2 linked regions of the Homo sapiens genome follow. The protein of the gene in region 1 purifies or fractionates together with the protein of each later gene. This does not show direct contact. Each region holds a gene or a part of one and is shown on either strand. Other genes may lie near its edges.

Region 1 (6,938 bases):
GGGAGGGAGATACTTTGAGTCTATATATTCCATTTCTCAAACTTTCACCCACTAATTTTAGCATCCATTGGTGGATCTTGCCTGCAACAGTACTACTGTGGGTACTACTAGTAGTGATTTTTGATTTCTCCCTTTCCTTCTACATTAATTGGAATTCATCTGTAAGGAAGAGTTGTCTTTTCTATAGATATAGATATAGATATAGATATAGATATATATCGTGGGTATCTCTTTTGTTCTATAGATGAAAGTCCAATGCCATCAATATTTATCTTGTTGCTCAAGTTATTCCAACTTTGACCACTAAGAGTTCCTTCAGGTTGGCTTCCGTGTCCTTTTGACATGACTTCATACTATTTGGAGCACTTTCTTACTTTCTGACACACAGGATGTTCCAGTATGTCATAGTGGCTTAATCCTAGTGGCTTAAGTAGCAATCTGGATGCAGCTTAATTAGGTGCTCTGCTTAGGGTCTGACAAAGCTGCACTAAAGGTGTCGTCCAGGCTGGTTCTCATCTGGAGGCTGTGCTGGGGAAGAATCTGCTTCCAAGTCACACAGGTTGTTGGCAGAATTCATTTCCTTGTGGTTCTGGACAGAGGGCTTCATCTTCTTCTTGTTGACTAGAGGCTGTCCTTAGCTTCTTGCCACACGGCCTCCTTTACAGCATGGCCACTTACTTCAAAGCCAGCTGTGGAGAATCTCTAGAGCAAGTCCTGTAGCAGGATAGAGTCTTATATAACAAAATGTCATCTCGGAAGTGAGACATCTCATCACCTTTGCCAGTGGTCTCCTTGTTTATTGTAGAGGATCTATAGTATGTTTTAATGTCTGGTAGGGCTAGTATCCTCTCATGGTTTTTCTTTTTCATTGTTTCCCTCACTGTTCTTGAATGTTTGTTGTTACAAATGAATCTTAGGATGGTATTGACTTGTCTGGCTCGGTTTCATAACCTTGGCACTGTTGACCTTTGGGGCTAGGTATTTCTCTTTTATGGGAGGCTGTCCTGTGTATTGTAGGATGTTTAGCTGTATCCCTGACCTCCATCCACTAGATGTCAGTAGCACCCTCACATTTATAACAACCAAAAATGTCTCCATATGTTGCAAAATTTCAACTGGGAGGCAAAAGCATCCTGAGTTGAAAACCACTGGTCTATAAGTATTTAGTTTTCTTTGTTGCTATTATATATGGACATGTAACTGATGCCCAATGTTGTTCGTATATATGAAAGCTGTTGAATTCTGTGTCAGTTTATATCTTGTTACTTTCTGAACTCTGTTATTCTCTTATCTCACTGATTGTCTTGAGTTCTCCAGGTATAGTATGATATCATCTGAAAATAGAGATAGTTTTACTTCATTACCCTGTTTGTATGCCTCTTACTGTTTTTATATTAGCATTGGCTAATAACTCAGGTACAATGTTAAAATAGTAGCAGGAATAGTAGGCATGCTTGCCTTGTTCCTGATTTTAGTAGAAATGCTTCTGTTGAAGTATTTTTGTCTCTCCATTAAACAAGATACTTGCTGTAGGATTAAGATATGTACATAATTTACTAAGAAAATGCCCCTTGATGCCTATTGAGTGTTTTTATCATGAATGATTGTTGAATTTTGTCAAAGGCTTGTTCAGCATTTATGAAGATAGTAATATACTTCATTTACTTACATGTATTAACATGGCATCTGTTGATGAGTTTTCCAGTACCGAACTAACCTTGCTTTCCTGGAATAAATCTCACTTGATCACGGAGTATGTTTTTCATAATGTGATGTTGAATTGAGTTTGCCAAAATATTTTGTTTAGAATTTTTATATCAACATTCATAACTGATGTGAGTCTATAGTTACCCACCTTTGAATTGTCTTTATCTGGCCTAGGTATCATATTAAGGGAATCAAGAAAGTCACCATCTTGGTTCCTTTAATGAAATAATTTATATTTCATTATAATTTATAGTGCATTATAATTTATGTTTATAATTATTTGTATGTTATATACTTATATAATTTTAGAACAGTGGGACTCTCTGGTTTTTGTAAGTTTGTTAGCATCCCCCTCTGAAACCATCTGGACCTAGTACTGTTTTGTGTGGGATAGTTCCTTAATAACGTTGACTGTTTTTTGTGTGTATGAAAATTAGTCTGTTTAAGCTTTTTTGCTGTAATGGGGTCAATTTTTGTTATTTGTATTTCCACAGGAAATTATCCATTTCATCTAAGATTTCAAATTTATTTGCATAAAAGTCTGCAAAGTATCTTTTATGAATTAGACATGTAAATTAATTTTAAATCTTTTTTCCCATAATTATTTTACCTATATCATTTATTATTTTTTGTGTTTGTTCTTTTTCTCTTTTTCTTGATCAAATTAGGTAGTAGTTTATTTATTAACTTTTCCAAAAAATCAGTACTTTGATTTACTAATTGGATCTATTTTTCTGTTCTCTACTTCACTGACTTCTGCTTCATATTTATTATTTCCTTCTTTGTGTTTTCTTTGATTTACTTTATTATTGTTGTTTTCCCATTAAAATTTATTGTTTTTATTCTTTCATTTATATAGATAACAGTGTTTTATGGACAGGCACAGTGGCTCACACCTGTAATCCCAATACTTTGGGTGGCTGAGGTGAGAGGATCACTTGAGCCCAAGAGTCGGAGACCAGCCTGGGCAACACAGGGAGACGCTCACTCTACAAAAAATTTAAAAATCAGCCAGGCACATTGGCATGTGCTTGTAGTCCCAGCTGCTACTAGAGAGGCTGAGGTGGGAGGATAGTTTGGGCCTGGTAGGTCAAGGCTGCAGTGAGCCATGATTGTGCCACTGCACAGAGAAAGATCCTGACTCAAAAAATTAAAAATAAAAATAAGTAAATAGAACACACACAAAAAAATTTTTTTTTAAAGTGTCTTTTGCAATCAATTTTTCTCTGATCAGTGCTTTCAATGTATCTTGATTCTGATACATAGTGTTTTCAATGTCGTTTTTAAGTTTCTCCTTTTCTTTAGGAGTTATTAGGAGGTTTTAAAAATTCCAGGTAGATGAACCTTTCTGGTTTTTTGTTTTTATTTGTAAATCTAGTTTTATTGCATTTTGGTCAGAAATTATTTATTGTAATATTTCTGCTTTATGGAAATTGCCAGTATTTTCTTTGTGACCTACTATAGGATCAGCATTTATAACTGTGCTGTGATTGCTTAGATGTATATTCTCCATAATCAAGGTCTAAAGTTTGATATATATCCATGAGATTTACTGTATTTATTATGTTGCTTAGATCTTCTGTTTCTTATTTTTTGTAAATAAGTGATCTGTTTTGTACTAAGGTTATACTAAGAGTTGTATATTAAAATCTACTGTGTCCTGTGTTTCCATGTATCTCCTGTAGTTTTTGCTTCAGAAGGGTGGTTGCTCTGCTTTTTGCTATGTAAATATCATGATTATTACTTATTCATTTTGGATTATGGCCTTTATTATATTAAAAATGTCCTCATTTGTCATGTTCAGTGCTCTGGACTAAAGACTTAAAGTCTTTAAGATATAAAGACTTTAAAAACATATTTATGAGACCTTCCTGATAACTCCTACCACTCCTATCTTCAATACCTATGATGATCATTCCATAATAGCAAGCAGCTTTAATTAGGATGTACTTTCATGGGAGCTACTAGAAGCTGTGATATACCTAGTGTATACCATTTCCAATCCAAAAAGAAGGAAGAAAAAAAAGTGGCAACTGGATGGTCATCACTCGGAATTTATACTGAATGTTGTGGCTTTTGCTTTTAAAAATTTTACCAACTAAGCTGTATAGCAAATCATCTGCATGCACTGTACATTTAAACTAAAATAGAACCTTATTTCCTTACAGCATTTTGCTGTGTTTTATTTAGAATAGGTACTTCTTTTGAAAGGATTAATTAAACTCTATCTAATTACCCAAGGCAGTGGTATCACACTGGCTCTGAAGAGGAGTACGAAGGAGTGAAAGAGACCTTTCCACCTAATCTTGTATACCTTTTTAAATTTGGGACCATGTCTATGTATTTCATCTAAAAACCACATTTACACACATGCATGTAAAATATAACTAAACTCCATAACTTGAAACATGATGTATTAGGTGCAGGAATCTACCCTCTTACTGAAAAAATAAAATTATTGGGTAAAATACTAAAAAACATACCTTGAATGCATTTCTTAACTAATGACTATTAGCCAACCAACATTTCTTTTAGTAGGAAAGTAAGAAAAGCTCAGATCAAAGATCAAATGATAGCAGGAACTCAGAGGGGAACTGACCTTATCCTGAAGATATTTGTCTAACTAGGTGAACCTAAACATTGCATTCACAACCCTATGGGGCTAGGGACAGAAGACAAATCCTAGGGTTTATCCAAAATAAATAGTCTAATAGATCTTCTTCCATAAAGTTGATCTACTTTCTCAGTAAAAGAGCAAACTAAAAATAACCTCCCCACTAGCTTGCTCAGCCCCAGGAAATAACTTGGGTGCTGAATTAAGGAGGAAAAAAATCTTTCCTTAGAATTCATAACCAAAATACAGCCTTTATTGCAGATTATAGCTGGAATTCACAATATTTCGAAGGCAAAAAAAAAGTTAAGCTGAGGATTTAGTATAATTAGTGCATGAACTATAGTGCTCTGTTGTCTATTAGAAGCAAATATTTTGTAGGGAGTTGTCCATCTCACACCTCAACATGTTTTGCACAGCCAAAGTTCCAAGGAAAATGAAGGGCTACCTCATAGTAAAGAAAAACATTACATACACAGGGGAACAAGGTATCAGCAGAAACAGCAATCAGACACAGAATATAAAATGTTTAATGTTTCAATAAAGGAGAGGCTTGAAAATGAATGAAGATGTTGAGTGGAAAAAGTCACAGAAAAACACCTACAGTACGATTCCATTTATATAAAGATATCTATCAAACAGATAAAACCAAACAATATACTTTGTGGGAGAGCAATACACAAACGCTTAAAACAAAACTGTAAAGAAAGGAGTGATAATAGAATTCAGGATAGTGGTCCCTTTTTGGGGGAGGAGAGGGTTGTGATCAGAAAGGGGCATATTGGAGGTGTGGTAATATTTTGTTTCTTAACCTGGGTGTAGGAACATGAGCATTTACTTTGTTTTTAAATGGTATATTTTCACATGTTCTTGAACATATGCTAAATTTCTAACAAAAAGGAACTATGTAATAAACATGTAATATATAAAATCTATGTTGATTAATTTTTCTTAAATATTTGAAATGAATTATTTGAAGTACTCTGATAGTGAGAACTATAAGATTTAAGAAAAATTAGAGTATTTCAAGTATTTAACAAAGCTTATGGTTTAAGGAAACTTCTTTTCTACTGATATGATGAAACAATTTTCTTCTCCATGCTTCACAGCAAAAGCATTAATTTTGGGTTGTTATTAATCTTCCTTTTTTTCTACTTTGCAGCAAGATGAGAAGATGAAGTGAATTTATGGATTCTGGTTTTTCTGAATTTTCAAAGCATAAGGAATCAAAACAGAAATATAGTATCAAGAAGATGAAATGCTTAATGAAAAGGTTTTTTTTTTGTTTCTTTGGCCTTTCATGGAGTGTTGATTTGTCCATTCTTAATGTTTATTAATAGGTATATGTGCATAAAATAGCTATTTTGTAACATTAAACTTTTTGAGTCATTTTGGTCATCATATAACTTACCTTCCTGTTTATTTAAGCTTCTTTTTACCTAGTAGCCTTTAACCAAACAATAACCTTTTAACCAAATAAAATGTGTTAATAAATACCTTTGCATTGGTTATCTTGTATACTAGGCTGTCTTGTTTTGCTGTCTGTTTTTAACCCATTCAATATATGTGGACATCCAAAAGGGTTTAAAAGCCACCTCCTGCCCTGGCCCGTTTTCTCTCCCTTCATTCTTCTGTTTTCAGAAATACATGTTGAATGTCAGCTTCTGTATTATTTCTATTATATGTAATCTGATGACTTAGAGGAGGAGATTAACCTTTCAGGCTCTTTTGAATTTGGTTTTTATAATTTGGTTTTAAAGATCACTTACTCTTCCAGTAATAAGTAGTAATAAATCCTGTTCATATCTGAGATCAATACACAGTTTATTGAATTCAAATGACTACTCAAACTCTATTCCACCTAGATGGAAAACTTTTTTAGACAATATCTGACCACTAACGCGGTGGGCCCAGAAATCTGCATCTTAATCAGATGCTTCAGGTGAGTCCGTCCGAGGATTGTCCTAGTACCACACTTTGAGAGACTGCAGTGGGGGTACAGAGTGCTGGAGGGGTTTAGTCAATAGCTCTAGTGAAGGATGGATAGTTTTATTCAAAGAATCCCAGTTGATGAATGAAGAAGAAATGCTAGAATTAGAAAAATTGCAAACCCCTATTAAAACTACCGCTCAGGCAATGCTCAACAATGGATGTAAAACAATTAGGTGAAATGTTGATGGAGAAATTCATTACAAAGGAATAGCCCTCTGAACCCACTGATCAATGTTAGCATCATTACGAATGAAACAACCAGACACCATATGCTTCCTGCTGTGCTGCAATATTAATTATATGGTACCACCTATGAAGTGTTCTTGCCCTCTCCCCCCCAAAAAATTGAACCTGAATTTAATCAAAGCTTTAGATCTAATATTTAGTGCATAGGAAATAAGTAGAGTAGAAAAACAATACCAGGGAGAAGCAATTAGCCACATTCAAAAAATGGTTCATTTCAATAGAACAACTGACCTGGTTTCTTTTTCAATGTGTTAATAGTGTTAAAAAGTCTGTTTTAGATCAAAAGAGACTGATGAGACCACATGCAAATACATTGCACAGCTCTTGTTTGATTCAAAGAAGTCAAGTGTAAAAGACATTTTTTAGACACGTGAAATGGTGT
Region 2 (7,548 bases), on another chromosome or scaffold:
GGTGAGGAGTTCAAGGCCAGCCTGGCCAACATAGTGAAACCCTATCTCTACTAAAAATACAAAAAAATTAGCAGGGCATGGTGGGGAGAGCCTGAGGCTGAGGCAGGAGAATCACTTGAACCAGGGAGGCGGAGGTTGTAGTGAGCCGAGATCGCGCCACTGCACTCCAGCCTGGGAGACAGAGTGAGACTCTGCCTCAAAAAAAAAAATAATAATGATGATCATAGGGAATATGATCAATCCTAACTTAGGGCAATACCTACTACAGAAAGGATGGGAGGACTTAGGCACAGTACAGGCTCATGCCTGTACTCCCAACACTGGGAGGCCAAGGAAGGAGGACAGCTTGAGCCCAGTAGTTCAAGATCAGCCTGAGCAATACAGCAAGATTCCACCTCTACAAAAAAACAAATTTTTTTAATTAGCTGGGCATGACGGCACATGCCTGTAGCCCCAGCTACTCAGGAAGCTGAGGCAGAGGACTGCTTGAACCCAAGAGGTTGAGGCAGCAGTGAGCCATGATTATGCCACTTTACTCCAGTTTGGGTGACAGGGTGAGACCCTGTCTCAAAAAAAGGAAAGAATGACAGAAAAATTCAAAGGATAAAACTAGTCAAATCATTTCATTTCTGAAATTACCGGAACTCTGAAAAAAAGACAAAAACCAAAGTTAAACATTTCAGTCACTTAAGAGTAGAAAATAATGGCAGTAACCAAAATATTCATATAAGGGTTAATGAAAACCTGTAACGTCAATTTAATATTTTTAAGAAACGGGTAGGCTGGGTGCAGTGGCTCACACCTGTAATCCCAGCACTTTGGGAGGCCGAGGTGGGTGGATCACTTGAGGTCAGGAGTTCAAGACCAGTGTGGCCAACATCGTGAAACCCTGTCTCTACTAAAAATACAAAAATTATCTGGCCATGGTGGCGTGCGCCTGTAACCCTAGCTACTCAGGAGGCTGAGGCAGGAGAATCGCTTGAACTCGGGAGGCGGAGGTTGCAGTGAGCCGAGATCGCGCCACTGCACTCCAGCCTGGGTGACAGAGTGAGACTCTGTCTCAAAAAAAAAAAAAATTTTTTAATTTTTTTATTGAAATAAGATTGCCAAAAGCTAGAAACGAAATAGCTAAATTATGAAGGAGAGAAATGTAGGTTTCCTTTCTTTTCCTAGATTTTCCTCTGATAAGAACTATTTACAAATGATGAAGTCCATGTATTGGCATTAAAACATTCTCCGGACAAAATGAGCTTTCAAGAAAATGGTGGCCGGGCACGGTGGCTCACACCTGTAATCCCAGTACTTTGGGAGGCTAAGGCGGACAGATCACAGGAGTTTGACACCAGCCTGGCCCACATGGTGAAACCTCGTCTCTACTAAAAATACAAAAATTAGCTGGGCGTGGTGGCGGGTGCCTGTAGTCCTAGCTATTCGGGAGGCTGAGGCAGGAGAATCACTTGAATCCCCGTGCCACTGCACTCCCAGCATGGATGACAGAGTGAGACTCCATCTCAAAAACAAAAAAAGAAAAAGAAAAAAAAGAAAAGAGCGAAGAAAAGGCAGGCCTAACTATGTGTGTAGCCTAGATTTTAAGCAACCTCATTCTTAACATTATGCTACATTTTGCATACTGAAGTAAGAATATAGGTTCATAGGCTGGGCGTGGTGGCTCATGCCTGGGCCGAGGCGGGCGGATCACTTGACGTCAGAAGTTCAAGACTCGCCTGGCCAACGTAGCGAAACCCCATCTCTACTAAAAATACAAAAAATAGCCAGGCGTAGTGGCGCAAGCCTGTAATCCCAGCTACTGGGGAGAGGCTGAGGCAGGAGAATCATCTGAACCCAGGAGGCAGAGGTTACAGTCAACCGAGATCATGCCACTGCCCTTCAGCCTGGACAACAAAGCAAGATTCCATCCCCCCGCCAAAAAAAAAAACACACACACACACAAGCAAGCAAGCAGCATCCCACTATAATAGGTCCAAGATTAGGTAAGGATTATACTGAAATATATCAGGGTTATGGAATATGCAATCTACCAATACTTCTAAAACAAAATAGCAGCATGATAAGTAAAGGGGATGAGCTGTATTTATATTTACATGGCTTGCCTGGGAAGCTCAACAAAAAAGAACTATGTTCTCAGGGGCAGGCGTGGTGGCTCCTGCCTGTAATCTCAGCACTTTGGGAGGCTGAGGCAGGAGAATCTCTTGAGCCCAGGAGTTCCGGGACCAGGCTGAGCAACACAGTGAGATGAAGTCTCTACAAAAAAAAAATATATATTTTTTTTTAAGAGAATATGACCTTGGTCAGGTGCAGTGGCTCACGCCTGTAATCCCAGTACTTTGGGAGGCCAAGGCAGGCAGATCACCTGAGGTCAGGAGTTCGAGGTCAGCCTTGCCAACATGGTGAAACCCTGTCTCTACTAAAAATACAAAAACTAGCTGTGTGTGGTGGCACGTGCCTGTAGTCCCACCTACTTGGGAGGCTGAGGCAGGAGAATCACTTGAACCCAGGAGGCAGAGGTTGCAGTGAGCCAAGATCATGCCACTATACTACAGCCTGGGTGATAGAGCAAGACTCTGTCTGAAAAACAAAAAAGAGAGAGAGAGAATGTGGAGAATGTGGCCTCACTATGTTGCCCAGGCTGGTCTTCAACTCCTGGCTTCAAGTAATCCTCCTGTCTCTGCCTCCCTAAATGCTGAGATTACAAGCGTGAGCCACCACACCCAGCAGCAAAAATCTTGTTTAAAAAAATTAGCCAGGCGTAGTGACATACGCCTGTGGTCCCTACTACTTGGGAGGCTATGGTGGGGGGATCTCTTGAGCCAGGGCCCAGGAGGTGGAGGCTGCAATAAGCCATGATCATGCCACTACACTCCAGCATGGGCAACAGAGCAAGAACTTGTCTCAGAAAGAATTATGTTCTCTATAGTTATCAGTCTTGGCAGTTGCTGAAATATAAAAAGGAACTTCTTAAAATATATTAAACACAAACAGAGCAGTATCTAATAGGATAATTTTAAAATACCGTTCTACTTCATCAACAAAACTATGTTTGTCCTAAAAAATACCAGAGGACAAAGTGCTTAACCAAAGTCCAACTTTATATATGAAATCTGCTCAGTATTAGCTGGGCGAGGTGGCAAACACCTGTAATCCCAGCTACTTGGGAAGCTGAGGCAGGAGAATTGCTTGAACCCGAGAGGTGGAGGTTGCAGTGTGCCAAGATCACACCACTGCACTCCAGCCTGGGCAACAAGAGCGAGACTCTATCTGGAAAAACAAAAAACAAAAAACAAAAACTGTTCAGACCTTCTCAGTGGGAGTGTACACTTTCTGGAAAGCAATTTGGCCATATGACATAAAATGCGTTTTTGACCCAGAAATACCAACTCTGGAACACATCCTCAGGAAGTGCAGATCAAATTGAGTACAATAGGAAAACATAGGAAAAATCCCTCAAATGTCCAATAAGGGAATTACCAAATATGTTATGGCATATCCACAAGACATACCACAATGGAATAAACTATGAAGACATGAAAAATGTTTTAGATAGAAAAATGCATACACTGTAACAATTAAACCAGAATATAAAGCATTATAAGTAATATTATCTCAGAACTTTTTAAAAGACATCTGGATATACACATTAAGAAGACAAAAACGAAATGCTTTTAATGTTGACAGTAGTTAATCTTGGATGGTAGAAATAAGTGGCTTCTTCTACCTTATACTATTCTTTTCACATCTCCGCTAATGAGCCTGTATTGTTTTGATAACACAAAAAAAATTTCAGAAAAAAAATTTTTTAATAATATTTGAGTAACTTTTTTATAGGTTCAATGTATTTTGTATCCATGTTCAGTAACCATCCACTTACTATATCTTTGAAAAACTTAAAAAATCCATTAACTTGTGAAATATCTTCTAAGACAGGCATTTAGAATGCATTATTGCACTCTAACAGCTTCTTAATGAGAACATTTGGCTTTCAAGATTCTTGGTCTGCAAGGAAAAACAAATAATTGGAGCGGGGATGAAGGGTAGAAAACTTTATGGAAGGTAGAGATGTTCCTTTGTAAGATGCCTCATTTTCCACAACTCAGAATCTATACTTGAAGACCACCTTATTGGAAGACTAGCTTCTCCAGTCAAGTTTCAGATGTGTAAAACATCTAGACTTGAACCACAGCCCATTTTCTTTAAAAATGGTTTTTGCCATTCTTACCTCCAAAGAAATTAAATAATAAGCAATACAATCAAATACAAAATTATTTCTGCTTTTTTTTTTTTTTTTTTTTTGAGACGGATTTTCACTCTGTTGCCCAGGCTGGAGTGCAGTCGCTCAATTTCGGCTCAACGCAACCTCCGCCTCCCAGGTTCAAGCAATTCTCCTGCCTCAGCCTCCTGAGTAACGCCAGGCTAATTTTTGTATTTTTAGTACAGATGGGGTTTCATCATGTTGGTCAGGCTGGTCTCAAACTCCTGACCTCATGATCCGGCCGCCTTGGCCTCCCAAAGTGCTGGGATTACAGGCGTAAGCCATTGCGCCTGGCCCTCCGCTTTTTTTTTTTTTTTTTTTTTTTTTTTTTGAGACGGAGTCTCGCTCTGTTGCCCAGGCTGGAGTGCAGTGGCGCAATCTTGGCTCACTGCAAGCTCTGCCTCCAAGGTTCACGCCATTCTCCTACCTCAGCCTCCCGAGTAGCTGGGACTACAGGTGCCCACCACCACACCCAGCTAATTATTTGTATTTTTAGTAGAGACGGGGTTTCACCGCATTAGCCAGGATGGTCTTGATCTCCCTCTGCTTTTTAAAGATACTAAAAGTAGTTCAACAACTCAGTAATGCCTGTTAGCCAGTTATTTAAATATCCAAACATAATATTCCACTCTTACTTTCCACAGATTATCATTCCTTCTCCTAATTCATGTTCATAGATAAATATATAGTCCTCAAATGTTAGTCAGTATGCTTAAGATGCCTGGATTTAAAATGCTCTCTCTAGAGAGACACACAGTACTCATTACGTCTGTATTTCTTATTCTATAAAGCAAACATTTCATATACGATACAAAAACTGCAGCTGATTTTTTAAATTAAATTAAATACAAAAAAGATGTTTAATGGATTAAGATCTCCCAATCCACAGTTCTATGGTTCTAACCTCAGCTGGATCTAAAGAGGTGGGAAAAGTAGAAAGTACACTGGCCCCAGATTCTAATTCTATCTCTGCTACGAATTAGCTTTGTTGCCTTGGAATTCCACTTAACCTCACTGGATCTGCTAGCCACATCTAAAAAATGAGGGGAAAATTAGACTACTTAATCAAGGTTTCTACAAACTCTTTAAAAAATGATTCTAGGTTCATATTTCTACAGTCTTCCCAAATATCTTCTTTTCCTAATTCTCAGCAGTAATAAACTTTCCCTTGGATTAACCTTTCAGGTATCAACAATGTGCAAAAGTGTAGACAAATTTTTATACTTCCATTTAAAAAATACATAATGTCCATAAGATTTATCCTATATTATTTTGGCAAATCCTATTAGATATTTTTTAATAACTATAACATATCTAAAAGCCCCAGTTAAAAATAAAGATTACTCAATATACATTACACATATAGGCACATGACTTATTGTGCAATAACTGCCAGAACAGTTAGCAATGGAAAAAATACTTCATTCCTTGACACTAATCAGAAAAGACAAGACTAGGGTGTTTCTTTTTTATAATGTTCAAAACAAAAGAGAACACTACATATATCAAGTGTCTCTACATAAAACTGGATTAAATTAGGTATCATTTCAGTTTTAAAATCCTAAGGAAAGGCATTCTAAGTCTGAGCATTCTGTAACTAAGCTGCATTATCTTTTAGACTCAAACCAAACCCTACATATAATAGTAATTCAGTCTCATGAACCTTTTGAGTAAGTTAAATGACATCTATTAAATCTTCCTTAATGTTTAAGGCACATGTAGTGACATTTTAATGTTTACAAAATGTTGATTTTTACAAAAAGAAAATTGGCTTCAGCTGAAGCTTTTCATACCTGAGAAGTCGCTTCTTAAATGTGAATAAGTAAATGGTCACCTTTCTAGAGTGACACATAGTACTCAATACATCTGTATTTCTGATTCTATAAAGCAACTATTTTATATACAATACAAAAAGTGCAGCTGATTTTTTAAAAGGCTAAACTTACTATTTTGGACACATTGTTTCTACCTAAAAATCTCTAAAATCATCTTTAATCACTAACTTGGATTTTAATCACTACATCCTCAACATATTCTATAAGAATCAGGGGTTAGGTTAGAGCCTTGAGGTTAAAAAAAAAAAAAAGTATGAAATTCACTGAGGGGGTCCCTTTCAGCATCTTAAAAGCCACAGCCAATTACAGCCCAGATGTCTTTTTTCTTTTTTAAATTAATATTACTTTTAATTGACAAATCATAATTGTATACATTTATGGAGTACAATGAGATGTTCTGATACATGTTTACAGTGTGGAATGACTAATTCAAGCCAATTACACATCCATCACCTTATCTTTGTGACTTTTTTTTTCTTAACTGAAGCTACCCACACCATTACAATTTTAAAAAGAATAGTCTAATGATAACAGTGGGCTGGGCACAGTGGCTCACGCCTGTAATCCCAGCATTTTGGGAGACCAAGGCAGGCATATTACTTGAGACCAGGAGTTCGAGAACAGCCTGCCCAACATGGTGAAACCCCGTCTCTACTAAAAATACAAAAATTAGCTGGGCATGGTGGCAGTCGCCTGTAGTCCCAGCTACTCGGGAGGCTGAGGCACGAGAATAGCTTGAACCCAGGAGGCAGAGGTTGCAGTGAGCCAAGATCATGCCACTGCACTCCAGCCTGGGCAACACAGCGGGACTCCGTCTCAAAAAAAAAAAAAAGATAATGGTGGAGCCACTGGTTCACTTTGACTTCAACAGCTTTGCAGAAGTTTTGTTGTTGTTAAATATAATAATCTAATGGTGGGGGCGGGGCAGGGGGGAACACATGATGCGATTACTTTCCCCAATCCATAAATCCACTACTGCAGCCCACATCTGGATAGATACAGTGATTCAAAGTAGAAAATGATACCAGTTGAGTCCCTTCTCAGTATTTTTCAAGCCATCGTTCCTGCATTAAACAGGTACGCCCAATTACAAATAACAACAGTTACCATCTACCTATCCCCTTCTGTGGGCCAGTATGAGTGCTAGCCACTTAACATCTTTCATGTCATTTAATCCCTAGAGCAACTCTGTAAGAAACATATCATTACCTCCATTTAATAGATGGGAAAGTAAGGACTCAAAGAGGATGTAAGGCTGCTAAGCGGCAGAGCCAGATTTCAAATCCAGGGCTGTCTGACTTCAAAGGTCATGCTCATTAAGCTACACTGTCTACTGAAAACAGAAGCATAAAAATCACCAAGAAGTTTCTCAAAGATTTGCTCAACTTTTTAGAGTTCCCAAGCATAACAACTCAACTGCAACAAATACAACTGGCTGTATTAATA

What was found. The genes of interacting proteins can lie anywhere in the genome.
Region 2: the proteins of SGO2 (region 1) and ARL8B purify together in Homo sapiens (affinity purification with mass spectrometry; 3 studies listed by BioGRID and IntAct, with this or other methods). This does not show direct contact.

The regions. Positions count from the first base shown.
Region 1 is NC_000002.12:200,577,969-200,584,906, forward strand, and holds the end of SGO2 (shugoshin 2), read left to right. Parts: intron 1-2,566; coding exon of another isoform or gene 2,567-2,570; exon of another isoform or gene 2,571-2,700; intron 2,701-5,480; coding exon 5,481-5,496; 3' UTR 5,497-6,128; downstream 6,129-6,938. UniProt on the Homo sapiens protein: Cooperates with PPP2CA to protect centromeric cohesin from separase-mediated cleavage in oocytes specifically during meiosis I. Has a crucial role in protecting REC8 at centromeres from cleavage by separase.
Region 2 is NC_000003.12:5,124,923-5,132,470, reverse strand, and holds part of ARL8B (ADP-ribosylation factor-like protein 8B), read right to left. Parts: intron 4,012-7,548; exon of another isoform or gene 3,656-4,011; intron 1-3,655. UniProt on the Homo sapiens protein: Small GTPase which cycles between active GTP-bound and inactive GDP-bound states.